4 linked regions of the Homo sapiens genome follow. The protein of the gene in region 2 interacts with the protein of the main gene of each other region in a pairwise test. Each region holds a gene or a part of one and is shown on either strand. Other genes may lie near its edges.

Region 1 (7,026 bases), 3.1 Mb from region 2:
GGATGCCACTGGGGGCCCCACTCCTTTCTGGGGCAGGCACCTCTCCCCACCTGCTGTGAGGGGGGCTAACAGCTCTCAGAGTGTCTTCCCCAGAGCTGACCCACTGACAAAAGCCCTCTGGGCAGAAATGACTGGGACACTGTGTGTATGTGTGCGTGCATGCAAGTATGTGTGTAGTGTGTATGTGCATGTGCACGTGTGTAGTATGTGTGCGCGCACATGTATGTGTGTAGTGTGTATGCGTGTGCACGCGTATGTGTGCACACGTGTGTAGTATGTGCGTGCGCACGTGTGTAGTGTGTATGCGTGTGCACGTGTGTGGTGTGTGTGTGCAGTGTGTAGTATGTGCGTGTGCACGTGTGTGCACGTGTGTAGTATGTGCGTGCACACGTGTAGTGTGTATGCGTGTGCACATGTAGTATGTGCGTGCACACAGGCATGTGTGTAGCGTGTGCGTGCACACGTGTGTGGTGTGTATGCATGTGCACGTGCATACTATGTGCGTGTGCACAAGTATGTGTGTAGTGTGTATGTGCGTGTGCGTGCTGGGGGTGGGCACAGCCCCAGGCTGGCCGACACAGGGTGTAAAGGCCCAGCCCTGTGCCCAAGAGGAACGGGTCTGCAGCTTGAGCTCTCCTGCACCCACAGCTCTGACCAGCTGCTCCCCGGTCCCTGGCCCTGACAGGCTTCTCCTCTGATCGGGCCCTTCCTTAAGTCTCGTGCCCCTAAATCCTCATCTCATGCTCTGCCTGTGGGGACCTGAGCCCAATTACTGCCCCACGGTCCCCATGCCCGACCCTCTGCCCACTGTGCCCACCTGCAGCACCAGCAGCATCTGCACGATGGCAGGGGGCACACGGGCATGGGCCCGGGCCAGCGCATCCTCTAGCTTCACACTGAGGGTGATGGCATTCCGGAAGTGCAGCAGGGCCAGCTGGCGCACCGATGGCTCCTTGCCCTGTGGACGGAAGGCACCCCACCCCACCGGCTGTGGTCACATGCGTCCTCATCTCCCCTCTCCCGGTCCTGGGACCCCACAGGGGGAAGAGACCTGCCGACCCTCAGGCCCCTCCACCCCGTTCTCCTCAGATGACCCCGTCCCAAGGATAGAGGGCCCCTTCAGTTTCCTCTGGCAGTGAAAGGGTTACTGTCACAGAGCCCCTACGCTGTGCCTCGCTGCTGGGGGATTCACAGGGAGGGAGGCGTCCATATCTGCAGCTTGAAGGGGTGGAAACAGGCTCTGAGCAACTCAGGTAGCCCAAGGAGAGCAGCACAGAGCAGAGCAGGTGTGTGTGTCCCCAAGCCTGGCGGCCCCCCTCTGTAGAGTGAGGCCAGGGTGGGCACAGCAGGGGCACTGGGCTTCCCTCCCCAGGGCTGGGCTGCCCACCTGCACCGGGTAGAAGATGGCCTGCAGCATGGGCAGCACGTCACTGAAGAAGAAGTCCCAGGTCTCTGCCAGTGAGTCCAGCAGCTTCTGTCCTGTGGGCATGGGGGCCATCACCACTGGGCCTGACTGGCGCGGGCAGATGCCTCCACTCACCCAGGATGGGTCATCAGAGGATGCGGGAGTGGAGGGCCTGGGCTCAGGCCCCTGGCAGCACCTGCCCAAGGTCGATGTCCAGCTCCACAGCTCAGCTGTTCTATGGCCCTGGGCCCACTGCTTAACCTCAGTCTTCCATTTATAAAATGTGGCAGTAAAGGGATTGGCCTCCCAGAGCTGAGGGCATGAAATGAGCCTAAGGCACAGGGAACTTGGCTCAGGGTCTGCTCCTGGCAGATGACAGCTGCCAATTCCCAGGCCTTTGTCACATACCAGACCCACACAAGTGAGAGCCACACAGGTATACACCTGGCACAGGTGAGACGTTCACAGGTGAGACCCCTACACGTACGCCTGACACAGGTGAGACCCGCACAGGTAGGTACACTCGGCACAGGTGAGACCTGCATCAGGAGACCTGCACAGGTAAGACCCACACAGGTACACCTGGCACAGGTGAGACCTACACAGGTGAGACCCACGCAGGTATGCCTGGCACAAGTGAGACCCACACAGGTGTGCCTGGCACAGCAGTTTCAACTCACATCCTAGTCTCATCAGATCCTCCTAACAACCCGGCTAAGCAGTTGATTTCTTCTACCCACCGACCTCCTCCCTCCTTCCCCCACACTATCTGCCCCTCCAACAAACACAGAACACCTACTGTGTGCTGGCGCTGATGCTGGGCACTGGGGACCCAGCTGAGCCCCAAACAGCTGCCCATCCATCACATGACAGGGAAGTGGGACACTGAGCAGGATCATAAGGGCAGTAGCCAGGGGTGATCGACCCCCCACCAAGCAGACAGAGGCTGAGCCTCCGAGGAAAGGGTGCACCACAGTCAGTGGCCCAGAGGACCCAGGGCCAGGCCAGCTCTGCCTGTGGTCAGGTCTGGGGATCCACGGAGACCCCTTCCAATAGCAGCACCACGTCGAAGGAAGAAGAGGGTGCAGAGGGTCAGGCAGGGAGGGCTTCCTGGAGGAAGAGCATCCAAGCTGGCTATAGGAGCTGGGCTTGCCAGACGTAGTGGTATGGGGACACATCTTGACAGGTGAGTCTCTGAAACAGATACGTAGGTAGCAGACATCGGGACCAGCTCTGTAGGATTTCTGCTGGCCTTGAGAGGAACGGTGCCATGCACCAGGTGAGTGACCCTTGTGGGACGGGGACAGCTGCCCAAGCTGGCTCTGGGTTCCAGTGGGAGAGGCAACGTGAAGAACCCTTGGCCTTTCTGCCTGGACTGAGCGGAGCTGGGATGAGGGCTGCTGGGTCCAGGGATGCACAGTCCAAGGACGTGTCCCCAAGGCCTCTGCTGTCCCCTGGAAGCCAGACGAACAACTGGCGAGAGAGATCTTGGTGTGGGCGCCTCTGAGTGAAGAGGGAAGCGTTGCCGGCTGTCTCTCAGGCTGCGCCCCCGGCCAGAACTGCTTTGAGGTTTCCATGGGAATGCGGAGGCTGAACAGGGACCTTTGCCTTTTTCTCACTCTCTGGGCCCTGCCCCCACTCCCGGAAGCCCCCAGCTTCATGTAGGTTCGAGGGCACTAGGAGTGGGACCCCGCCAGGGGCAGCCCTGGGGGCTGGGGCCGAGCTGGACTGGGTCCCATCTTTGGCTCCCAGCCCAGTGGCCAGCCCTCTGCCCACCCGGGTAGCCCAAACCTGGCTCTGAGGGTGATGGGGGCCAGCAGGAATGCCCCGGACGGATGGATGCTCACCGCCCCGCCGAACTGTGCCCACACACAAAGTCCCTTCAGTCCCCCTCCGCCGCGGCAGGAAGAAAGGCAGCTCAGTTCCCGGGCTGGCCGGGGGGTGGCTCTGGGCACCGGCCAGGCCTGCGTTCTGCTCAGCGCAGGCTGTTCTCCAGCCCACGGGGCGGAAATGCTGCGGAAAGCAGATGTTGTAAAACAGAATCCAGGCCCCAGCTGGAGCCACACGGTGACGAGAGGCCAGGAAGGGCAGCCTCGCGGCTGTTGGGGCTCTCTGCCGGGGCCTGTCCTGTGGGGGCCCCTCTGTGGGGCAGTAGGGTTAGTCGGAGGCAGGTATGGGGCGACCCCAGGAAGTTCCTCCAGGCGGACTCAGTGGCATCCTCTATGAAAGGGGCGTGATACACGTCCCCACGTGGGCAGGTCGAAAGCTGAGATGAAACAGCACTGGGCGTTTGCTGCCGGCAGGACGGGGCCGGGTGTGTGCGCGCCGTACCTTGGCTCCAGCCTGGCAGTAGCAGGGGCTGATGCAGGCGAGCGGCCCCGCAGTAGCCTTGGCTCCGTGCTGGCTCCCACTCTGGGGTTCTCGCTGTGGGCGCAGGCTGGTGTCCGTCTTTCCTTTCTTTATCCGAGTGCTGAGGGCCCTGTGCAGGCCCTGCAAACCAACAACCCTGTTTCAGCCCGTCGGGAGACTCAGGAACAGTGAGGAGCGCAGGGCAGTGACAAAAGCCACGCGCTGGGTGGACCAGGTCAAGGGTGTCTGGCGCGGGGACGGCCGAGGCACAGGCATGGAGGCAAGCGTGTAAGGCAGCACAGCTGGGTCACGTGACCCATACCGGGTTTGGATTCCCTGGTGGATGAGCGACGGCAGATCCCAGGGCCCAGCAGAGGACCAGGAGCTCCCGCCCAGAGTTCCCAAGTTTCTGGCTTCCAAGGAGTTGCTTGGCTGCAGCTGGAGCCGATTCCCTTAAGCCACACACAGGCCATCAAACTACAACCCCGGCCGCGGTCCAGTCTTCCTCCCCTTCCTAGGGAGGCAGCCCTCCACCTCAAGGCCACTCCTCCAGGCTCTCCGCTTCCAGGACCGGCTCTGCCCAGGGGCTGAAGTCCAAGGCCTCCCTGGAGGCTGAGAAGGGGCAGGGGGCAAGGTCCTGGGGCTTCCCCACAGGGGGCCATCACCCACCTCTGGTAGAGGCTCTGTAGGGACAGCTGCAAGGAGCAGGCTCAAAGTGAAGAGCTCCCAGTGGAACCCAAGCAGGGGTAGGGAGCAGGAAGGGGGAGGCCCCTGAGGCCGCCCATCAGGATGTGGAGGTGGCTATGTCCCCACTGCATGGGGCCAAAAGGGACCACAAGTTCCCCTGAACAGACCACACTTTGAGGCCCTACTCAAGGGCCACTGCCTCCATGCAGCCCTCTCTGACTGCCAAGGTGGAATGAACCCTTTCTTCCCCAGGACACTCCTTCACAATGACATTAATCACACTCAACTGTCACCCTCGGGTCCGTGTCTGTGTCCCCAATTGGGCTGTGAGTCCCTGAAGGGCAGGGCCAGGTTCTCCTCCATCTCTGGGCTCCCAGAGGTCACCTGGGCCTGACATGTAGAGAACACTCAAGTGGACAGAGCCTGTTCAACCCCACATTGCTAAGACAGGGGTGCTGAGGCTGGAGAGGAAACCCTGTGTCTGCAGCTACATGGGAACTGGAGGCCAGGGCCTCAGACTCCCAGCGTAGAGCCCAGTGCCTGTCCCTGAGACCTGGGGAGGCCAGGAAGGGCTGGCGAGGCAGAAGAGGATGCTGGGCCTCCCAGGGCTGTCCTCTGCCCCTTCTGCTGGGCAGGCACCCCTGCTGGGAGGCCTGGCAGACCTGGCTGTCCCACGCAGAGCTCCTTTCAAGCCACACAAAACTCCCTTCTCCGAGAGCCCCGGCTCCCCTAGGCCAGATCTGGTGGGAGGTACAGGCACCGCCAGAATGTGCCGCATCAAGCGAGGGGCGTGGGTGGCCATCTTCGTCAGGTGCCAAATGCTCACAGCTCTGTCCTGCCAGTCTAGATGTTGCCTCCTCCAGGAAGCCTTCCCAGAACCCCCATGTCTCCCCGACGGTCTGATGGTTTTCATGGCCTCTCTTTGTGTTCCTGTCTTGGCTGGCCCCACCCAACATGTTCAGTGGACGTGAGGAAGGACCATGACACGCAGCTCCAAGGTCCCCTGGAACATGCCAGGCCTCCGGGCCTGTGTCCTTCTCTGTGGAGTGGGCTAGTAGCTCTTTTTCCCAGGGTCAGAGGGAGACCTGGAGGAGGAGCCTGGGGCAGCAGAGTGAAGAGTATGGGTTCGGGACCCGGTGGCCTGCTTGGCACCCTGGCCTTGCCACGGTGCAGCTGTGTGGCCTGGGCAGGACACCGTGCCTCACTTTCCCCATTCATTCAGTGCTAACAACGGTGGCTTCTTCACAGGGTTGTGGAAATCAAATGAGTTAGTAGATGTGAAACACTCGGGGCAGTCCAGCACGGAGGGACGCACACACCCGGTGCCTAGTGCACAGGTGCTCAACACACGGGTACAGCGCAGGCCCGATCCCAGCACAGCCCGAGCAAAGCAGCATCCGTGGGAACTGAGTGGACCCCCTCACCTGACCCCGCTCCCAGGGCAGCTCGCTCCTGCAAGGATGCGCACGCTGCTGCTGCTGCCCGAGGCTCTCGGCCACGGGAAGCCCAACCTGCACAGTGAGGCCAGCGGGGACCTCCGGGCCGTGAGAAGGGCAAAGGGTGTGTGCCCTAAAGTCAGGCAGACCTGGGTTTGAGTCCCGCCCCCACCCCTGATGTGCACTGTAGCCTTGGGCAAATCACTTATCATCACTGTACTCTCCCACTCAGGAACAATAACCTGAAGGTCCCAGTGGGTGGCTGTGAGCCTCGACAGAGAAAATTCAGCTGAGTCCCCCACCCTGTCCCCTCCTCTGTGAGTATCGGTGACCTCAGCCCTAACCGACTTCTCCTCTGACCCCCAAAGACCAGGACAGGGGCTCTCCCAGGCTGCGGGGACAGAGCTCACTAGGGCCAGAAAGTCCCGTGGGCAGGGAGGGGAAGCAGGGGGCTTTTCCCCGATGTCTCATAGCCCTCCTGGGCTCCAGCAAGTTCGGGGGGCAGACCCTCTCCCAGGGTTCCCTCTGGGTAAGGATCTCGGCCCTGCTGCCCTAAGGCTATACGTGTTCCTTCCAAGCCCTCCGGACCAGAGAGCCACACCTTGCACCCAGAGGCCCCCAGCACGAGGCCCAGCAGTCCAGCAGCCAGCCAGGACCCAGCATGGCCCAGAGTGGCCGCCAAGGGGCCCACACTCACCCTCATAGAAGCGAATCTTGTCCCGAAGGATCACCATGCCTTTTGTCAGCAGCTGGTTCTGAAGGTAAACACAGAGGGGCTGTCACCGCCCTTGTGGATGCCCGGGGGTGTCCTGGCCAGCAGGGCCCCCGAGAGTCCATCCACCAGTGAGCAGCCAAGGCTTAAAGGGGGAGGAGACTCACTGAGGTCCCACAGTCCACCTGCTGCAGGGCCTGAGCATCAGTTCATCCAGGAGGGTAACTGACCCAACCCCGGGTTGTCACGAGACAGGAGGTGGTCACACGGACATCCCGAGAGGTGGGCAGGGCCTAGAGCTCCTTGCACTGGGCTCAGCTGGGCAGGCAGAAGCCTGGCATGTCCCACAGTGAAGAAAGGACTTTGCATCAAGAGGTGACTCTGATTACCAAAGGCCGGGCCCGTCAGCTGCCATCCTACCTCAGGGACCCTGGACG
Region 2 (8,020 bases):
TGAAACGCCATCTCTACTAAAAATACAAAAAATTAGCTGTGTGTGGTGGCGCATGCCTATAATTCCAGCTACTAGGGAGGCTGAGGCAGGAGAATCACTTGAACTTGGGAGGCAGAGATTGCAGCGAGCCGAGATTAGTCACTGCACTCCAGCCTGGCGACAGAGATTCCATCTCAAATAAAAAAATAAAATTATTGAATTAATTATTTTAGAAACAGTCTTGTTCTCTCACACAGGCTGGAATGCAGTGGCGCAATCATAGCTCACTGCAGCCTTGAACTTCTGGGCTTGAGCGATCCTCTGCCGTGGCCTCCCAAAGTATTGGGATTACAGGCATGAGCCACCTTGCCTGGCCTGCCGATTGACCTCTTTTGGTGTAGATTAACAGAGTCCTCTGTCCTTCCTACTAAGGACCTAGAGAGGCTTAATCTGATTCAGGTTTTCTTTCTTCAGCATGACTTTATCATAAGTAACATATTTTTTCCTAAAAAGGTATATAATGTCTGGTCATCTCCAAGTAGCTGGGATTACGGGCATGTGCCACTATGCCCAGCAAATTTTCTGTATTTAGTAGACATGGGGTTTCATCATGTTGGTCAGGCTGGTCTCAAACTCCCGACCTCAGGTGATAGCCTGCCTCAGCCTCCTACTCCCAAAGTGCTGAGATTACAGCCGTGAGCCACTGTGCATGGCCTGCTGCTTCTTAATAAGTTTAATTAGCTGTCTCCTGGAGAACAAAATGGCAATGTGTGTCAAGAACCTTAAACATGCGATGACGCGATCTTGGCTCACCGCAACCTCCACCTCCCGTGTTCAAGCGATTCTCCCGCCTCAGCCTCCTGAGTAGCAGGATTACAGGCATGCGCTACCACGCCTGGCTTATTTTGTATTTTTAGTAGAGACAGGATCTCACCATGTTGGCCAGGCTGGTCTTGAACTCCTGACCTCAGGTGATCTGCCCACCTTGGCCTCCAAAAATGCTGGGATTACAGGCATGAGCCACCGTGCCTGACCTATTTTATTTTATTTTATTTTATTTTTGAGACGGAGTCTCGCTCTGTCGCCCAGGCTGGAGAGCAGTGGCGCAATCTCGGCTCACTACAAGCTCCGCCTCCCGGGTTCACGCCATTCTCCTGCCTCAGCCTCCCGAGTAGCTGGGACTACAAGCGCCTGCCACCACGCCTGGCTATTTTTTTGTATTTTTAGTAGACACAGGGTTTCACCGTGTTTGCCAGGATGGTCTCGATGTCCTGACCTCGTGAGCCACCCGCCTCGGCCTCTCAAAGTGCTGGGATTACAGGTGTGAGCCACCGCGCCCGGCCTTATTTTTTATTTTATTATTATTTTTTTGAGACAGAGTCTCACTCTGTCGCCCAGGCTGGAGTGCAGTGATGCAATCTCAGCTCACTGCAAGCTCTGCCTCCCGGGTTCACGCCATTCTCCTGCCTCAGCCTCCAGAGTAGCTGGGACTACAGGCGCCTGCCACCACGCCTGGCTAATTTTTTGTATTTTTTTAGTAGAGACGGGGTTTCACCATGTTAGTCAGGATGGTCTCTATCTCCCGACCTTGTGATCCACCTGCCTCGGCCTCCCAAAGTACTGGGATTATAGAGGTGAGCCACCGCGCCCGGCCCCTATTTTATTTTTTTTGAGATAGAGTTTCACTCTGTTGCCCAGACTGGAGTGCAGTGTTGCAATCTCAGCTCACTGTAGCCTCTGCCTCCCCGGTTCAAGCAATTCTCGTGCCTCAGCCTCCCAAGCAGCTGAGACTACAAGTGCATGCCACCACAGACTCAGCTAACTTTTGTATTTTTTAGTAGAGATGGGGTTTTGCCATGTTGGCCAGGGTGGTCTCGAACTCCTGACCTCAAGTGATCTGCCCGCCTCAGCCTCCCAAAGTGTTGGGATTACAGGCGTGAGCCACCACACCCAGACAAATTACAGTATATTTATTGAGATTACAAGTGTGAGCCACCACACCCGGCCAAATTATGGTATATTTAAAATGAGCTATAGGCCACGCACAGTGGCTCACACCTGTAATTCCAGCACTTTGGGAGGCCGAGGTGGGTGAATCACCTAAGGCCAGGAGTTCAAGACCAGCCTGGCCAACATGGTGAAACACTGCCTCTACTAAAAATACAAAAATTAGCCGAGTGTGGTGGCGCACACGCCTGTCATCCCAGCTGCTTGGGAGGCTGAGATGGGAGAATAGCCTGAACTGGGGTGGCGGAGGTTGCAGTGAACCGAGATTGAGTCAGTGCACTCCAGCCTGGGCGACAGAGCAAGACTCTGTCTCAATAAATAAATAAATGTATATGCACTATCGTTACAATACAAGAAATCAGATAGGCCAGGCGCAGTGGCTCACACTTGTAATCCCAGCACTTTGGGATGCTGAGTAGGGCGGATCACAAGGTCAGGAGATCAAGACCATCCTGGCTAACACAGTGAAACCCCGTCTCTACTAAAAATACAAAAAACTGGCCGGGCGTGGTGGTGGGCGCCTATGGTCCCAGCTACTCGGGAGGCTGAGGCAGGAGAATGGCATGAACCCGGGAGGCGGAGCTTGCAGTGAGCCAAGATCGCGCCACTGCACTCCAGCCTGGGCGACAGAGCAAGACTGTCTCCAAAAAAAAAGAAAAAGAAATCAGATACAGTCTGGGCATGGAGGCTCATGACTATAAACCTAGAACTTTGGGAGGCCAAGGCTTGGGGGTATCGCTTGAGGCCAAGAGTTTGAGACCAGCCTGATCAACATAGCAAGATCCTGTCTCTACAAAAAATTAAGAAATTATTGGGAGTTGGCGGCACTTGTAGTCCCAGCTACTGAGGTAGCTGAAGCAGGAGGATCACTTGAGCCCGGGAGTTTGAGGTTACAGTGAGCTACGATGATCTCACCACTGCACTCCAGCCTGTCTCTATTAAAAAATTAAAAAATATATATATTTCATTAGGAAATAAATATTGAAAGATACTTGAAAGAAAAATACAAAAATGTCAAAATGCTGGTAGTGGTTGTGTTAGAGTGGTAGATTATAGCAAATTTTTTTCTTTTTTGTATTTCCTATGTTTCTCACTTTTTTTTTTTTCCTGAGAGAGTCTCATTCTGTCACCCAGGCTGGAATGCAGTGGCGCCATCTCGGCTCACTGCAAGCTCCACCTCCCAGGTTCGCACCATTCTCCTGCCTCAGCCTCCCGAGCAGCTGGGACTACAGGCGACCGCCACCACGCCCGGCTAATTTTTTGTATTTTTTTTTTAGTACAGACGGGGTTTCACCGTGTTAACCAGGATGGTCTTGATCTCCTGACATCGTGATCCGCCCGCCTCGGCCTCCCAAAGTGCTGGGATTACAGGCTTGAGACACCGCGCCTGGCCGTTTCTCATTTTTAATAAAAATATTCAAAATTTTTCTGCTCAGGAGTTAAATTAACCAGTATGAAGATTACATGTACCCCTATTTCTCTTCCTTTGTTTTATGTGTTACTGTGTTGCCTGCACATACACTCCCAAACGTGGAGGCTATAGTGAGGGAATCAATCACTTTCCTGTAACTGTGTTGCTTGCGTTTATTCTTTGGTTGGTGTAGTTATTGCAGGGTGGGGGCATTTTTACACTGAGGTCCTGGAATGGTAACACTACTTTCCTGGATGAGAAGGGTCTCACCTGAACCACTTAAGATGACAAAAAATACCTATGGTCATGGCCATTTATCAGGGACCAAAAGATGTCAAACTACCAGTGTCCAAAAAAAACTTAGGGCACACTAGAGTAAGATCTGCATATAAGAGCCTAGGGTAGCTCTGCGAAGTTCAAAGGAAGAAAAGAATTTCAGAATTATCTGGGAGGAGAAGGGCAGGCCATCAAACAGCAAAGTCCATCCAGCAGAGATAGGCAGGGAAGGTCTTTCTTCCACACACCGAATGGCACTACATGCTGAAGTCACTTACCACTTGCTTCAAGGTTCTCTTCTTGTTCTTCCTCTGCTTCTTCATCGCCCTCGGTTTTGTAATATGACTCCCACCCTGACATGTTGGCTACTGCTCACTAGGCGAAAGACGTTAACGTCAGTAACAGGCAAATTTAAATCGAAAAAATACCGACCTCTAGGTTCTTGTGAGATCTGTTCTAAAAGCTTGGTTAGTAGTGAGGAATGTGGACGGTAAATCCTGCTGCCTCGAAAGCTCGGCAGTCGGACTGCATGTAAATGCGCATGGGGGCCATCCCAGTAGCTGCCTCATCTCAGCTATCCCTCACGTTTCAGGGCCGGCGGCGGCCCGCGGAAGCCAGATCCCGGAGGTCCCGCCCCCGACGCCATTTAGACGGTGAGGGATTCCCGCTCCAGGATTCTATGCTGACTAACGGACCCCCTCGTCCTCAATACCGCCCAAAAACCTCCCCAAATTCCTCAATCACGCCCAATGAGATCTCAAACGCAGACAGGCCTCAAGCGCAGGCGGGCCGCAAGCGCAGGCGGGCCTCAAACGCAGGCGGGCCTCAAACGCGAGGTGCCGCCTCCTTCCCGAGGAAGGAGCGTGGTCTCGAGTCTGTCGCTGCTCCTCGGATTCGCACACTTAAGGCTAACGCTAACCCTCTAGCAAGGCTATGGGGGCGCGCGAGACCGACCGAGCGAAGCGGGACGAGGCCAGGCCTAGCTGGCGAACAACACAAATGGATAACGGCCCGCTTACCTTTGGCGCAGGGAAGCGACCAACTTGGACAGAAGACGACAATCCACGCATGCGCGGGCCCTGTACTCGGTCCCAATCAACGCCCTCTACGTCATCACGCATGTGCGCACTATATCGCGTCAGGCTGGCACGCACACTCCCCAACCAGCTTCTACCTATGTCCCTGACGAAAGCCAACCCATCAGCGAGAGCCCCGCCCCCTTCGGCAAAGCCCCGCCCCTTCCTACGTCAGGACTGTAAGCACATGCGCAAAAGTGCATCCCTGCCCCCGCCCCCTCTTCCGTGTGGGCCCTCCCTGTCCCCTCTCTGTCACCTCACAGTAGTCGTTGCCGGTAGCGGGTGTGGGGGCGCGAGCAGCGCAGGGCGGCCTCTCCCCCACCCCTCAGCCCGGGCCCGGGCTCGGTCCCCCCCTCTCCCTCCGCTTCGCACTCCCGTCGGGTACGGGAAGGTCCAAGCCGCTGCCGGGTGCCCGAGGGCCGTCGTGGCCGCCGTCGCCACGGGTCCCAATGGAGCCGCCGAATCTCTATCCGGTGAAGCTCTACGTGTACGACCTGTCCAAAGGCCTGGCCCGGCGGCTCAGCCCCATCATGCTGGGTGAGGGGGAAGGGGCCAGGTGGGCAGGAGGGCGGGAGCCAGGCCAGAGGGTGGCGGCTGGCCGAGGTGGGGAGACTTGGGCCACGACTCACGGGGAGACACATGGCCAGGAGGATGGAAGAAAAGCCGAGTGGAGAAGAGAGTGGTCTGAAGTTTGGGCCATCTGAGCCCCGCTTTAGCCTCGCAGATACCATCCTCACGTTTGAATTCAAGGGGAAGGGATGGAGGAGTCATGCCTCCACCTTGCAGGGGGCTTGGGCAGAAACCGAGCCCTCGAGAGCCCCTTCGACGAGGGTGTGGGGTAAACCAGCGCTGGATCCCGGCGGGTTCTCTGCCTCGCTCGGGTAGCCCAGTGCACTCCTGCCTCCTTGGCGCGGTGTAGGAAAGGTGAGGATGCCTGCCGCGCGGTGCCCCTCGTGGTGACAGAGACACTGCGGAGGTCGGGTGGCTCTCGGAGAACCTTGTCTCAGTGCCAAAAGGAAGCTCCCTTTGCAGTCCCAGGGATAGGTGGGATGGGGGAGATAGAGCTGCCTAGGGACCCAGCCATCGCCCCCAGGTAGGTCAAGTCAGGATAAGAGGAGCCCCGAACTCCAGAATTCACCAAGCAGTCTTCTCCCCACAGTTTCTAAGTTAATTGCTTTTGCTCAAATGGCAAGAAAGCAGTTTTGGGGGAAGTTTGGATGAGGCTGTGTGAATAAGGATTAGTAAAGAAAGTATTTCGGTTGTGCTCCATTAAACTACTTAACTGGCAGGAGAAAAACCAGCCCTCATTCAGTGACGATCACACCTTATTTCAACTTAAATACAGGAATGTCTTGTGTAACACAGGAATTGTCAGGTTTGTAATTTCGGGTAACAATGAGCAGGAAAGAATTCCAATTATTGAAAATTGAAGCTTTGACAGCATCCATTTGAATGGCTAGTTTTTCCTGGCTTCTGTGGAGACACTGGCGAATGATTTAGTTCATCTCTGTGAGACGAGGGGGCAGAGATCAAGTAAGGGAGGCTACTTTTGAGGGCATCCTTCAATGTCCTTGAGTTTCTAATATGTCGTAGTGAATTGAACTTAATCTCACAACCGTGGGTCCATGAGTTGTTTCTATATTTGGCTTCACATCAAAATCATCTAGGGTGCTTGTTAAAAATGCAGATACCCTCATTTCCAACATATATTGTAAATGAGATTAGAAAAAACAAGGTTAGAATAGCTCTTTAAATATGCAAATCAAAGGATATATATGTGCTTGCTTAGGCAAATAATTATCCGTAAGGATACACAAGAAATTGATAACAGCAGTAGCTTATGGAAAGGGGAACTTGATGCCAGGGGAACAGGGGTAGAAGAGAAACTTTGCTGTAAACTGTTTCTTACCTCTGGACCTGTGTATTACATACACATAATATCTATTTAAAATGAGAAAATTTTAATTATATGGATTCTAAGGCTTCACAAATACTAAATCAGAATCTCCTGGAGTTTTGGTCCAAAAATCTGTATTTTTAATGAGCTTATCAGCTAATTCTTATGTAGCCAACCCATTATTTGACAGGGATTTGGGCCTAGATAACCAGTTGTTAAAATGATTGAGGCACATCTGAAAGCAAAACTTACAAAGTCACTGAGGAAGCTGTTACTCATTAATAGATTACATCAGTCAAGTGTTTTTTTTTTGTTGGTTTTTTTTTTTGAGACGGAGTCTCGCTCTGTCACCCATGCTGGAGTGCAGTGGCACGATCTAGGCTCACTGCAAGCTCCGCCTCCCGGGTTCACGCCATTCTCCTGCCTCAGCCTCCCGAGTAGCTGGGACTACAGGCGCCCGCCACCACAGCCGGCTAATTTTTTGTATTTTTAGTATAGACGGGGTTTCACTGTGTTAGCCAGGATGGTCTCGATCTCCTCACCTTGTGATCCGCCTGCCTTGGCCTCCCAACGTGCTGGGATTACAGGCGTCAGCCACCATGCCCAGCCCACATCAGTCAAGTTTTAACTAAACTTCTTGGAATGGAGCCATTTAGTTGTTTGTTTTTTTATCATAGTGAGGAATCAGATATTTCCTATACCCCACGTAAAACCTCCCCCTTTACACTGGGTATTTTTTATCCTATTACCTAATAATTATTGGGCAGCTGAAAGGAGCCTTAGGAGTCATTATTTCATTCATTCAGCAGATGTTTATTGAGCGTCTGCTCTATGCTAGTCAACGTGTTAAGGTAAATGAGGTTGATATAATGAACAAAGATGTTCTTTGCCATCATGGAGCTATCTAATGGGGGAGACATTAAAAATAAATACATAAATAATTAGTTACAAATTGCATAAGTGCCTTCTGCACAGGAAGCACACTGGGTGCTGTGATAGAAAATAACAAGAGAGACCTTTTTTTTTTTTTTAGACGAGTCTTGCTCTGTTGCCCAGGCTGGAGTGCAGTGGGGTGATCTCAGCTCACTGCAACCTCTGCCTCCCAGGTTCAAGTGATTCTCCTGCCTCAGCCTCCAGAGTAGCTGGGATTACAGGCGCATGCCACCACACCTGGCTGATTTTTATATTTTTAGTAGAGACAGGGTTTCACCATGTTTGCCAGGCTGGTCTTGAACTCCTGACCTCAAGTGATCCGCCCGCCTCAGCCTCCCAAAGTGCTAGGATTACAGGCATGAGCCACTGCACCCAGTGAAGAGACCTATTTTAAATAAGGGTATCAAGGGTAGTGACTTTGAAAGTGGGAATTTAGGATGA
Region 3 (7,605 bases), on a different chromosome or scaffold from region 2:
CACTGCTATGTTCTCCCATAATACTGTGCACTTCCTCCATCATGGTATTATCCTTCCACCACACTGCCTTAGAGACTTCCTGTTTATATTCTGTCTCATCTGTTAGGCTGTAAGCGTGACAAGATCAGGAAACAAAATGTTCTCTTTCCCCATCATCCCTCCTCTACCATATGCATTCAAGTGCATAATGCAGTTTCTAGCAGAGCAGTACTCAAACATATGTTTGCTGAATAATCAATAATCACTGAACAATAATCTAGTCTATTCATAAGACATTGGACTTGTGGTGCTCTCAAACCAGAACACAGCTAAAGGGATTGTTCCTTAACATCTACAAAATGCCATTGAGTTACATAAACCAACCAAGATTACCATTCATTCATTCATTCATTCATATTAGACATTTAGGGATGTGTTGACAAGTCACAAGGGTTCCCAGTCAAGTGTTCCAGGTCTAGTAAATGAGCCACTGCTACAAAGCAGAAAAGGCAGTGTGACAGAGGTAAGCACAATAGGCTACAGAAGGCCAGAGGGGCATCTCATCAGCCTACGGAAGGGGGCAAGGAAACATTAGGGAAAACATCTAGTAAAACAAAATCTAGGGCAATGCTTAAGTTGTGCTACATTTATTTATTCAATATTTGGGGGACACCTATTGTTTGTCTGCCATTATTCTAGACAATGGAGACACAGTATTGAACAAAACAAAGTCCCTAATCTCACAAAGGTTACATTCATGTAGAAACAGACAACACACAAGAAAAAAAATAGTCCAGGCACAGCGGCTCATGCCTGTAATCCCAGCACTTTGGAAAGCCGAGGCAGGTGGATCACTTGAGGTTAGGAGTTTGAGATCAGTCTGGCCAACATGGCAAAACCCAGTCTCTATTAAAGAATATAAAAATTAGCTGGGCGCAGGGGCTCACACCTATAATCCCAGCTACTTAGGTGGCTGAGGTATGAGAATCATTTGGACCAGAGAGGTGGAGGTTGCAGTGGGCTAAGATCATACCACTGCAATCCAGCCTGGGCGACAGAGGGAGATTCTGTCTCAAAAAAAAAAAAAAAAAAAGAAAGAAAAAAATTATATATATATAGAAATATAGTATGACAGATAGGGGTTAAGTTGTATGAAGAAAAATAAAACAAGGTATGGGGGATAGAGAGTAAGGAAGGTGGGAGGATACCATTTTCTATAAGGGCAGTAAGTCAGGAAAGACAAAAGAGCTTACTGATAAGGTGACATTTCAGAAATCTGAAAATAGCAGGTCATGTAGATTCCTGGGAGATGAGTGGTTGAGGCAAAGAGAGTAGCCAGTCCAAAGGCCTCAGGGTGGGACAACACATTTGAGGAACAGCTAGAGGGCCCGTGGGGCTAGAAGAGAATGAGAAAGGGAGAGAAGAGATGAGATCAGAGAGGTAACTGCCAGATTATGTAGCATGTAGGGTCTTGAGGGCAGAACTACTATCAGCCTAGGGGGTACCTTTGTGCGGTTTAGAAAAAGAGGTCCCTTTCTCTGGGCAGACTTGGCAAGAGGAGCAACACTGGACTGTGGCCTCTACTTGTTCCAGCACTGGAGCAACAGCCTCACTTGTAAGAATTTAGGCTTTCCTCTGAGTGAGATTCGAAGCCTTTAGAGGCCTGTGTGCAGAAGAGTGGGAGAGCTGACTTAACATTTTAAAGAATTGTTCTTGGCCAGGCATGGTGGCTCATGCCTGTAATCCCAGCACTCTGGGAGGCCAAGGCGGGCAGATCACCTGACGTCGGGAGTTCCAGACCAGCCTGACCAACATGGAAAAACCCTGTCTCTGCTAAAAATACAAAATTAGCTGGGCGTGGTGGCGCATGCCTGTAATCCCAGCTACTGGAGAGGCTGAGGCAGGAGAATCACCTAACCCGGGAAGCAGAGTTTGCGGTGAGCCAAGATTGTGCCATTGCACTCCAGCCTGGGCAACAACAGCGAAACTCCATCTCAAAAAAAAGAAAAAAAAGAATTGTTCTTGTTGCTCTGTGGAAAACAGATTATAGGACGCAAGGGTCAAAGCTGGAAGTGCTGTTACGAAGCTACTGCAATAATCAAGGCAAAAGATGATGGTGGCTTGAATCAGGGTGCTAACAATGGAGGTGGTAGGAAGTGTTCTGCATATATTTTGAAAATAAAGCCAAGATCTGCCAAGGTAGATAAGATGTGGGATATAAAAGAACAGTCAAGGATAATCATAAAGTTTTTGGCCTTAGTGACTGGAGAAATGGGAATTGCCATATATAAACATGGGAAGAGCAATTTCATGAGATTAAGTGTTTGGGGCCTGTCCATTAGAGATGTTGAGTAGATAGCTGGATATGTGAAGATGAAGTTGTGACATATCTGTGACATATCTGGTCTGACAGATAAGTTTATGAGTCATTTGCATATGATGATACTTTAAAAGTTATTAAACAAAAATGAGATAACCAAGAAAATGCAGACAAAGCAGAGGTCCAAGGACTGGGCCTTGGGGATACTCCATGGTTAGAGGTCTTGCAGATCAAGAGGAAGCAGCAAATGAGCCTGGAAAAGAGCCTCCAGGGTGGCAGAAAAACTGAGAGGTGAAGTCTTTGAAAGGTTTTCAAAGAGAGATGGAATGAGCAACTGTGTCAAATACTGCTGACAGATCAAATAAGATGAAATGACCATTGAATTTAGCAACATGGAGGTCATTAGTGACCATTACAAGAGCTATCCGATCAGAATGGTGGGGACAAAAGCCTGACAGGAGTGGGTTCAGACAACGGAAGGGAAAGATTAGAGACAATATGTACAAGCAACTCTAGGAAATTTTGTTGTAGAGACTAGTTGGCGGACTAGGGGATGAAAAATGTTCCAGGAGGCAGGGCGTGGTGGCTCACGCCTGTAATCTCACCACTTTGGGAGGCCAAGGAGGATGGATCATTTGAGGTCAGGAGCTAGAGAACAGCCTGGCCAACATGGTGAAACCCCATCTCTACTAAAAATACAAAAATTAGCCGGGTGTGGTGGTGGGCGCCTGTAATCCCAGCTACTCGGGAGGCTGAGGCAGAAGAATTGCTTGAACCTGGGAGGCGGAGTTTACAGTGAGCCGAGACCGCGCCACTGCACTCCAGCCTGGGCAACAGAGCGAAATTCCGTCTCACGAAAAAAAAAAAAAAAAGTTCCAGGAAGAATAAACGACTGGATTCTTCAGAAATGCCAAAACACGGGAGGGCATAGGTCAGGAAATTAAATTAGCTTCATTTACTAAAATGTAGAGTAATGGGTTTAGCAGATTAGGTTGTAAGGAAGGCAGAGGCTGAATGTCATTCTAAGAAATTTGAATTGTATCCTGAAGGTGAGGTATAAAATAATAACACACATTTACCTTTCAGAATGAATATTTTGGAGGCAATAGTGAAGGTGGGTTAGAAAGGAGGAAAGACTGGAGAGAGATAAGGAGTTAGATTCGGAACCCCTACAAGAGAAAATTAAGGTCTGAATTTGGGGATGGGGTCGCAGAGGGCAGAGGATGAAGAAATAAATACAGAAGACATTAGAAAGGACTCTGGTTTGTGGAGTGGAGAAAGGACAGGGAGAACTTGCTTCTAATTGGCCTCCTTGCCGGAAGAAGCACCCCATACATACTCCAAAAACTTCCTCTCAGATCCAAGACTCCCAATGCCCAAATTTGGAAATTCTACAACTAAATAACCATTCTGCAGGTTTCTTTTCCGTACGGCTTCACTTTAAAATTTGAAAACTCCTGAGATTTTTCAACATATTAAAGCGTGTCACACTAAGGAGTGACACACAAGACCCAGACTCTTCCCTAGGCTGGGAGAGACTCGGCGGTTGAAAGCAGGGAGGCGCTACAGGAGAGAAAGGGCTGAACCCCCGCTTCCGCAGATTTCACCTATTTTTCAGTTTGCCTGGAGCAGGCCACGCAAATTCCCTTCCCTTGAAGGCCCAAGGAGCGTCTGGTAGATTGCTGATTCTCTGCCCATCACCGCTTCTGGAAGTGAGTGAAGGACACCTTTCGTGCCCCGCACCCTTTGCCCCCCGCTTAACATTTGCTCTAGTCACTTCCGGCCCGTTCCCACGCTCCGGAAACCATTATTCCGCTTCATCCTACCTCCAGTCCTCACCTGAGTCCTTTTCTCCAAACACCGACTTCAGTGCTTAGAGATAGTAACTAGGGAATCTGGGAGGTGGAACTGCATCTTGGGACAAGTAGTCCAAGGTAGAAGAAAGCAGTGGAGAACTACAGTTCCCAGAATGCACTTCCATTTCCTACCTCTTCCCCAAGAGGCCCCCCTCGACCTCCTTTTAAAAATTCTCTTAGCCACGTTGATTGTACGGGAAAAGCCTTTTTAAAACATCTTTTACGTTGCTTAAACCTACAGTTTCGAAAGCATTCCGAAGGCTAAAGTGAGAAATAAGCCCAGGCTAGGGAGAGGAGAAACGAAGTTCACGTCCTAGTCTGGCACCGGGTTGGATTGTCGCTGGGACGGCAGTCAGGCATTTGGTGTGGTCGCCTAAGGGGTGGGTCCTTCGGCGGGAGCTCCGGGAAACCCCGTGGGCCTGCGCGGCGTTCTTCCTTTTCGATCCGCCATCTGCGGTGGGTGTCTGCACTTCGGCTGCTCTCGGGTTAGCACCCTATGGTGCCTTCTCTTGTGATCCCTGACCTAACCTGTCTCTTCCTTTTCCTCAACCTCAGGTGGAGCCGCCACCAAAATGCAGATTTTCGTGAAAACCCTTACGGGGAAGACCATCACCCTCGAGGTACGGGCCGGGTGGTCATGAGGAAGCCAAGGTCCGAATAAGGTCCTGAGGTGGATTTTAGGACCGGCGCTGCTTTCCATGTCTTAGACCATGATTCCGAATTTGGGTTCTAAAACTTAAGCTTTGAAATGAGTACCTTTTGCTGAGCAACGACCTAGAGGTGATTTTCGGTGGCCAAAGGCTGGACCTGTCTCCTCTCGAGGGGTTCCAGCTAGTTAGTTAAAACGGAGGAGCTGCGGTGGGGAAGGAGACGCTCTGCCCGCCGGGTGCGAGCACGTGTGGCCCTGCGGCCGCCGCCCGCTCTGGGCTGGGGAGATGAAGGTGCTTTCCGGTAGCCGACTTGGGAGGTTGCCCACTGGGTGGGTAATAGGTCTCTCGAGTAGGTCTCAGCCCTGTCGCTGGTTCGGTTCAGTGGTAATTGTCAAACTAAATGAGTTCTGCTGTAGTTCCTTAATGTGTAACCAACATGCTTTCACTTTAACACTCATAGGTTGAACCCTCGGATACGATAGAAAATGTAAAGGCCAAGATCCAGGATAAGGAAGGCAAGTAGTATTTTGTAGTTAAGAAAACTTAACCTGCGGAGACTTCGGCCTACCTGTAGGTGCTAGACATACCTGCTCTTGGTGATGGGGGAAGGGGTCAGATTGACAAAGCGAAATACTTGTGGAATAACACAATAGACATTGGTGATCGGGGAGCACAGTACCTAGATTGGAATCCTTGAGGTGTATTTCACTTGCGTGAATTTGGACACTTATTTATTTATTTTGTGTGAGATGGAGTCTCCTCTGTCGCCCAGGCTGGAGTGCATTCGCTTGTCCCGGCTTACTGCAGCCTCCGCCTCCCGGGTTCAAGTGATTTTTGTGCTTCAGCCTCCCTATTAGTGGGGATTACAGGCGTGCACCACCATGCCTGGCTAATTTATTGTATTTTTAGTAGAGACTGGGTTTTACCTTGTTGGCCAGGCTGGTTTTGAACTTTTCACATCAAGTGATCTGCCCACCTCGACCTCCCAAAGTATTGGTATTACAGGTGTCAGCCACTGCAGACAACCAAGTATTGTCCCTAATATTAAATGCGGTAAAATGTGACATGTAAAGATTTAGAACCATGCCTAACCTCTAGTAAGGGCTTATTGTCAGCCTTTAGTATCATGTATTTGATTAAGGGGTGTTACCTTATAAGTCTGGAGCACATCACAGGCTTGGTGTGCTGTGACTTAATTTTTGTTTTTTGTCATTAGGAATTCCTCCTGATCAGCAGAGACTGATCTTTGCTGGCAAGCAGCTGGAAGATGGACGTACTTTGTCTGACTACAATATTCAAAAGGTCTGTCTAGGGGAAGAGCAGCCTCTTTTAAAAAAAAAATGTTATTTTGGAAATTTTTTATTTTACTTTTTTTGAGACAGGCTCTGACTCTGTCACCTAGGGTGGAGTGAGTGGCGCAGTCACTGCAACCTCCACCTCTCAGACTCAGGTGGTCCTCCCACCTCAGCCTCCTGTAGTTGGAACTATAGGCACCCGCCACCATGCCCAGGCTGGTCTCAAACTCCTGGGCATAAGTGATCTTCCCACCGTGGCCTCCCAGCGCTGGGATTACAGACGTGAGCCACTCCATGTGGTGTATTCTGGACATTTTGACACACAAAAAGGGAAAATGGCATTCGAATAGCAGTAGATTTTTAGGTAACTCCTATACTGATACTTGAGAAGCACTGCTATAGTTCTCCCATTATGAATTTTGCAAGTTGTATCCCATGGTGTAATGTAATGCATTCTTTAATGTCCCTATAAACTGTCAGTTAAGAATCTGATACTTTATTGGGTTTGGGGGCTGCAAGATTCCCTCAAATGTTATTGTGTGCTGCTACTGCTTTTAATTAGAAAATGCATAATGTTGGGTGTGCCCATTCTTAGTGGAATCATGAAAGCTTGCTTCATTCTTCCATTAACAGGAGTCTACTCTTCATCTTGTGTTGAGACTTCGTGGTGGTGCTAAGAAAAGGAAGAAGAAGTCTTACACCACTCCCAAGAAGAATAAGCACAAGAGAAAGAAGGTTAAGCTGGCTGTCCTGAAATATTATAAGGTGAGCCAGTTAAAGGGCAGAATGTCAGCAAAGTCTTGGCTTATTTGGAAAACTTAATCTTTATAGTACTTGTCAATATTTTCTTGGACTTAAACACCCAATATTATCCCACTTTGGTTTAAATGAGGTATTCTGGAAATGAGAAATTCAGACTTTCTGGGGTTTTTCCTGTTTGGTATTTGAAATCAGTTATGTAATAGGGTTCTGAGTTTAAAGTCGGGTTTGGGTTCAGGTCTTTACCTTTGTCTACCACTTGCAAAGCTGGCCTTTAGTGTTCAAAAGTCCCAAGACTTCTGAATGTTTTCATTGTAGCAATGATAACTGGTGAGAATTTAGGGTGCTTTGGTTTGTAAGCACCAAAACCACCAGTATTACACAGTTAAAAGCTTAAATATTTTGAGTCACTTAAATTAGACTTCAGAATGTGTTGTAAAATTATCTTAACAGCAGGTTTGTGCTTTTCAGGTGGATGAGAATGGCAAAATTAGTCGCCTTCGTCGAGAGTGCCCTTCTGATGAATGTGGTGCTGGGGTGTTTATGGCAAGTCACTTTGACAGACATTATTGTGGCAAATGTTGTCTGACTTACTGTTTCAACAAACCAGAAGACAAGTAACTGTATGAGTTAATAAAAGACATGAACTAACATTTATTGTTGGGTTTTATTGCAGTAAAAAGAATGGTTTTTAAGCACCAAATTGATGGTCACACCATTTCCTTTTAGTAGTGCTACTGCTATCG
Region 4 (5,437 bases), on a different chromosome or scaffold from region 2:
CAAAAGGGTCCTCAGCTACCAATAATTACTTTAAATAAAAATGGATTAAACTACCCAATCGAAAGGCAAAGAGTGGCAAATAAATTAAAAACAACAAGATCCAGAGATATGCTGTCTGTAAGAGATCACTTTAAGACACACGTAAGATGAAACTGAAGGGATAGAAAAGATTTTCATGCAAATAGTAAACAAAAGAAATCAGGAGTAGTTATACCCAACAAAATAGAATTTAACTAAAAAACTGTCTCTAGAGACAAATAAGTCATTACATAATAATAAAAGGGCCAACTCAACAGGAAGATAAGACAATGATAAAAATATATGTGCCCAACTTGAGAATATATAAATATACAAAACAAATATTGACAGTTCAGACAATATTGACAGCAATATAATAATAGTAGGAGACTTCAATAACTGACTTAACATAATGAATAGAACATTCAGACAAAAATGAATAAGCAGTTTACCCGAACAACACTGCAGACTAAGTGGACCTTTTCACCCAATAGCAGCAGAACACCCATTCTTCTCAAGGGCACATGCAACATTCTCCAGGATAGATCCCGTCCTAGGTCACAAAATAAGCCTTAACACATTTAAGGAGATTGAAATTATTCCAACTATCTGGTCTGACCACAAAAATTAAACTAGAAGTCATTAACAGTAAGACAACAAAAACATTCAGAAATACATGGAAACTAAACACATTTTGAATAATCATTGAATCAAAGAATCAAAAGGTAATTTGAGAAGGATTTCAAGACAAATGAAAACAAAAACACTACATACCAGCACTTATAGGAATGCAGTACTAGAGGGAAATTTGTAGTGATAAATACATTAAAAGAAGAAAGATCTCAAATAAACAACCTAATTTTACACCTCAAGGAAGTAGGAAAAGAGCATAAAACATAAAACACTGATGAAAGAAATTGAAGAGGACACAAATAAATGGAAAGATATCTTATGTTCATGGAATGGAAAAATAAATATTGTCAAAATATCCAAATTATCCAAATCTACAGATTTCATGTAACTTCTATAAAAATTCCAATGTCACTCTTCACAGAAATAGAAAGAAAATCCTAAAATTCATGTGGAATCACAAAGGACCCTGAATAACTAAAGCCATCTTGACCAAAAAGAACACAGCTGTATGTATCACACTACTGTATTTCAAAATATATTACAAAATGATAGCAATCAAAACAGCATGGTTCTGGCAAAAAAACAGACACATTGACCAATGGAGTAGGATTGAAAGCCCGTGTATAAAACTACACTTCTGTGGTCAATTGATTTTTGACAAAGTGCCAAGAATACACAATGGGGAAAAGATAGTCTCCTCAATAAATGAGGTTGGGAAAACTGGGTATCCACATGCAGAAGAATGAAATTTCATCCTCTTCTTACACTACATGCAAAGTTAAATCAAAATAGATTAAATATTTAAATGCAAGACCTGAAATCATAAAACTCTTAGAAGGACACATAGGAAAAGAGCTTCTTGACACTGGTTTGGGTAATGACTTATAGAAAACTACACCTAAAGCACAGGCAAAAATTCAGCTAAATAAACATAGACAAATGGGATTGCATCAAAATAAAAAGCTGCAAAGCCAAGAAAACAACCAGCAGAATGGAAATTGGGAGAAAATATTTGTAAACAACATATCTAATAGGTGTTAATTTCCAAAATATATAAGGAACTTTGGCTGGGTGCCCTGGCTCACGCCTGTAATCTTGACATTTTGGGAGGCCAAGGCAGAAAGATTGCATGAGCCCAGTAGTTTGAGACTAGCCTGAGCAACATAGTGAGACTCTGTCTGTACAAAAAATAAAAAAAATTAACCGGGTGTGGCAGTGCATGCCTTTAGTCCCAGATACCTGGAAGGCTGAGGTGGGGAAGATTGGATCATCCTTCCTACCTTGAGGCTCCAGTGAGCTGTAATGGTGCCACTGCGCTCCAGCCTGGGTGGCAGAGTGAGACCCCGTCTGAAATAAATAAATACAAATAATAAAAATACAAGGAACTTATTCAACTGTAGTGCAGAAATAAACAAAAAACATAAATAACCTGATTTTAAAATGGGCAAAGGACCTGAATAACATCTCTCAAAAGAAGACAAAAATCGTTCATGAAAATATGTTTAATATCACAAATCACCTGAGAAATGCAAATCAAAACCACAATGAGGTATCATCTTACATGTGTTAGAATGGCTGTTACCAAAAAGATGAAGGATAACAAGTGTTGGCAAAAATACAGAGAAAAGCAGCTCTTTCAGTCTGTTGACAGGAATATAAATTATGGAAAACACTATAAAGATTTCTCAGAAAATTAAAAACAGACCTACCTTATCCAGTAATTCCACTTTTAGGTGTATATGCAAAGGAAATGAAACTAGTATTTTGAAGAGATATCTGCACTCCCATGTTCATTGAAAATTATTCACAATAGCCAAGACATGGAAACAATCTAAAAGCCCATTAACAGATGAATGAACAAAGAAAATGTGGTGTGCATACACAATGGAATATGATTCAGTCTTAGAAAAGGCGATTCTGCCATTTGCAACAACGTAGATGGAACTGGAGGACATTATGCTATGTGAAATGCTCCAGAGACAGAAATACATATATTGTACGATCTCACTTACATGTGGAATCTGAAAAAACAAACCCACAGAAGTAGAGAGTAGATTGGTGGTTGCCAGGGTTCTGGAAGGGGAAATGGGGAGATATTGGTCAAGGGGTATGAAGTTTCAGTTATGCTAAGTGAACATGCTTTGGAAACCTAAGGTATGGTAGTATGAGTATAGTAAACAATACTGCACTGTATACTTGAACTTTCATGAGAGGGTAGATCTTAAGTGTTCTCACTACACATGAAGAAATTGAAAACAGGAATTATGTGAGGTGATAGATATATTTTAAAAGAAAATATTTTTACTTTCAACATGGTCTCATAGGGACTTCTTTTTGATGTTGGTGTTAGACAGGACTCACATATGCCTCGGGTATCTCAGGGTGGCAGACAGACTGTAAAGTGGCCCTGCCTGTCCCTCAACCCTGGTGTTGGGCCTTTGTGTAACCTCCTTCTTTTGAGTGTTGTTGGTGACAGTGACTTGCTTCTAGCCAATAGACTATGGCAAAGGTGATAGGCTGTCACTCCAATGATTGTGTTATGTTATTTAAGACCCCATCTTGTTAGCAGACTCCCTTTAGAGACTGCTGACTTGACGTGAGTGGCCATGCTGAAACAGCTTACCTGGCAGAGACTGTGAGAGGCCTCTAGGACCAGAGAGCAGTCTCCCACCAACACCCAGGAAGAAACAGGGGCTCTCAGTCCTGCTTCGGAAGGCCCCTCAACCACATGATAATGAATTCTCTCACTGGAAATACAAAACCCGTTTACACCATTATCATTTACATCTCAGGATTCATGGAGGATCTAAGTAGAGATCTGGATGGAGAGGTAGACGAAGTGTTTGATTTTGAAGCGATTTGTGGGCAAAGGCAGTAAGGTAAGCATGGATGTGTAACAGGGAAGTACTGAGACAGAATTCTTTGATGTCACTATTTTTCCTGTGTATCTCCTATACTTGTCTCTATATTTAAAGTCTTAAGAATGTTCTGATGGGAAGAGGAGTGTTCATACGGCCTGAGGATGGAACTCAGTCACAGAGACCCAGAAAAATCATAGACATTGATACTAACCATGGCAGCATGCAGGAAAACTGGACAAGGCAAATTAGGGTAATTTGCAGGCCTAGTGGTAACTGACACTAGGATAAATTTGCATCCTGTCTGAGCCAAGAGCACACCTCTCCTCTTTAGCCTGAGCATCCTCCTCTCTAAGTGAGCTCTGGTTCAGATGCAGAGCCTGACCACTCTTTAGCACTCCTAGGAAAGATTAAAAACAGGACTGTGGCTAGGGGCAGGGAGGAGGCCAGGGACCAAGGCACTCAAGTGGGGACTGCAGGAGGGGTCAGAATGCAAGCAGCACTGACGGCCTTCTTCGTGTTGCTCTTTAGCCTGCTGAGTCTTCTGGGGATTGCAGCGAATGGCTTCATTGTGCTGGTGCTGGGCAGGGAGTGGCTGCGATATGGCAGGTTGCTGCCCTTGGATATGATCCTCATTAGCTTGGGTGCCTCCCGCTTCTGCCTGCAGTTGGTTGGGACGGTGCACAACTTCTACTACTCTGCCCAGAAGGTCGAGTACTCTGGGGGTCTCGGCCGACAGTTCTTCCATCTACACTGGCACTTCCTGAACTCAGCCACCTTCTGGTTTTGCAGCTGGCTCAGTGTCCTGTTCTGTGTGAAGATTGCTAACATCACACACTCCACCTTCCTGTGGCTGAAGTGGAGGTTCCCAGGGTGGGTGCCCTGGCTCCTGTTGGGCTCTGTCCTGATCTCCTTCATCATAACCCTGCTGTTTTTTTGGGTGAACTACCCTGTATATCAAGAATTTTTAATTAGAAAATTTTCTGGGAACATGACCTACAAGTGGAATACAAGGATAGAAACATACTATTTCCCATCCCTGAAACTGGTCATCTGGTCAATTCCTTTTTCTGTTTTTCTGGTCTCAATTATGCTGTTAATTAATTCTCTGAGGAGGCATACTCAGAGAATGCAGCACAACGGGCACAGCCTGCAGGACCCCAGCACCCAGGCTCACACCAGAGCTCTGAAGTCCCTCATCTCCTTCCTCATTCTTTATGCTCTGTCCTTTCTGTCCCTGATCATTGATGCCGCAAAATTTATCTCCATGCAGAACGACTTTTACTGGCCATGGCAAATTGCAGTCTACCTGTGCATATCTGTCCATCCCTTCATCCTCATCTTCAGCAACCTCAAGCTTCGAAGCGTGTTCTCGCAGCTCCTGTTGTTGGCAAGGGGCTTCTGGGTGGCCTAGATGGCATGGTTTCCTTATCTAGACCCCCGGAAAAGAAAGGTGAGGATGGCAGAGCTGTGGCCCACTGACATGGAGGTGTTTTCATAGGTAGATGAATACTGGGTACTGTTATGGGGCTCCTCCTCTGGGAAGCGGAGGAGACAAGGAAATCTGGGAACTCTCTGAGCATGCTTCCCTTCTTTGGAATGTTATAAAGATGCAGTCCCATGGATCCCAGAGAGCCAGTATTGCCCAGAAGTTCAGAATATGTTAATATGATGTCGTGCTACTCCTTACGTTTGTACCCCTTTGTTATCTGGAAGGCTTCGATTAAAAGTGTTGATTAACTGTGCCATCGCATCTCCACTGCCTTTCAGAAAGTTAAGAGCAAATATTTGCCTCTATGGCTGAACTGAGATGTGGATAGTGAAGCGACAGCCTTCTTGAGGACAAATGTCATGGTTACTACGAGAGCCCCAAGGGACAGGCAGTTGTGGCAGGCAGTGGCCTGGGCTGTGAGTTCTGATTGCCCTTT

What was found.
Region 1: the proteins of DESI1 (region 2) and PRR5 interact in binary tests that used the Homo sapiens proteins (3 or more experiments, as listed by UniProt).
Region 3: the proteins of DESI1 (region 2) and RPS27A interact in binary tests that used the Homo sapiens proteins (3 or more experiments, as listed by UniProt).
Region 4: the proteins of DESI1 (region 2) and TAS2R41 interact in binary tests that used the Homo sapiens proteins (3 or more experiments, as listed by UniProt).

The regions. Positions count from the first base shown.
Region 1 is NC_000022.11:44,726,183-44,733,208, reverse strand, and holds part of PRR5 (proline-rich protein 5), read right to left. Parts: intron 6,633-7,026; coding exon 6,575-6,632; intron 1,480-6,574; coding exon 1,388-1,479; intron 959-1,387; coding exon 818-958; intron 1-817. Other genes in the region: PRR5-ARHGAP8 fusion protein, read right to left, coding at 6,575-6,632. UniProt on the Homo sapiens protein: Associated subunit of mTORC2, which regulates cell growth and survival in response to hormonal signals. mTORC2 is activated by growth factors, but, in contrast to mTORC1, seems to be nutrient-insensitive. mTORC2 seems to function upstream of Rho GTPases to regulate the actin cytoskeleton, probably by activating one or more Rho-type guanine nucleotide exchange factors.
Region 2 is NC_000022.11:41,618,018-41,626,037, reverse strand, and holds the start of DESI1 (desumoylating isopeptidase 1), read left to right. Parts: upstream 1-4,994; 5' UTR 4,995-5,198; coding exon 5,199-5,286; intron 5,287-8,020. Other genes in the region: XRCC6 (X-ray repair cross-complementing protein 6), read right to left, coding at 3,952-4,033. UniProt on the Homo sapiens protein: Protease which deconjugates SUMO1, SUMO2 and SUMO3 from some substrate proteins. Has isopeptidase but not SUMO-processing activity. Desumoylates ZBTB46. Collaborates with UBQLN4 in the export of ubiquitinated proteins from the nucleus to the cytoplasm.
Region 3 is NC_000002.12:55,228,098-55,235,702, forward strand, and holds the start of RPS27A (ubiquitin-ribosomal protein eS31 fusion protein precursor), read left to right. Parts: upstream 1-4,590; 5' UTR 4,591-4,611; exon of another isoform or gene 4,612-4,710; 5' UTR 4,711-4,727; coding exon 4,728-4,775; intron 4,776-5,265; coding exon 5,266-5,320; intron 5,321-6,021; coding exon 6,022-6,107; intron 6,108-6,733; coding exon 6,734-6,865; intron 6,866-7,330; coding exon 7,331-7,480; 3' UTR 7,481-7,605.
Region 4 is NC_000007.14:143,473,874-143,479,310, forward strand, and holds TAS2R41 (taste receptor type 2 member 41), read left to right. Parts: upstream 1-3,999; coding exon 4,000-4,923; downstream 4,924-5,437.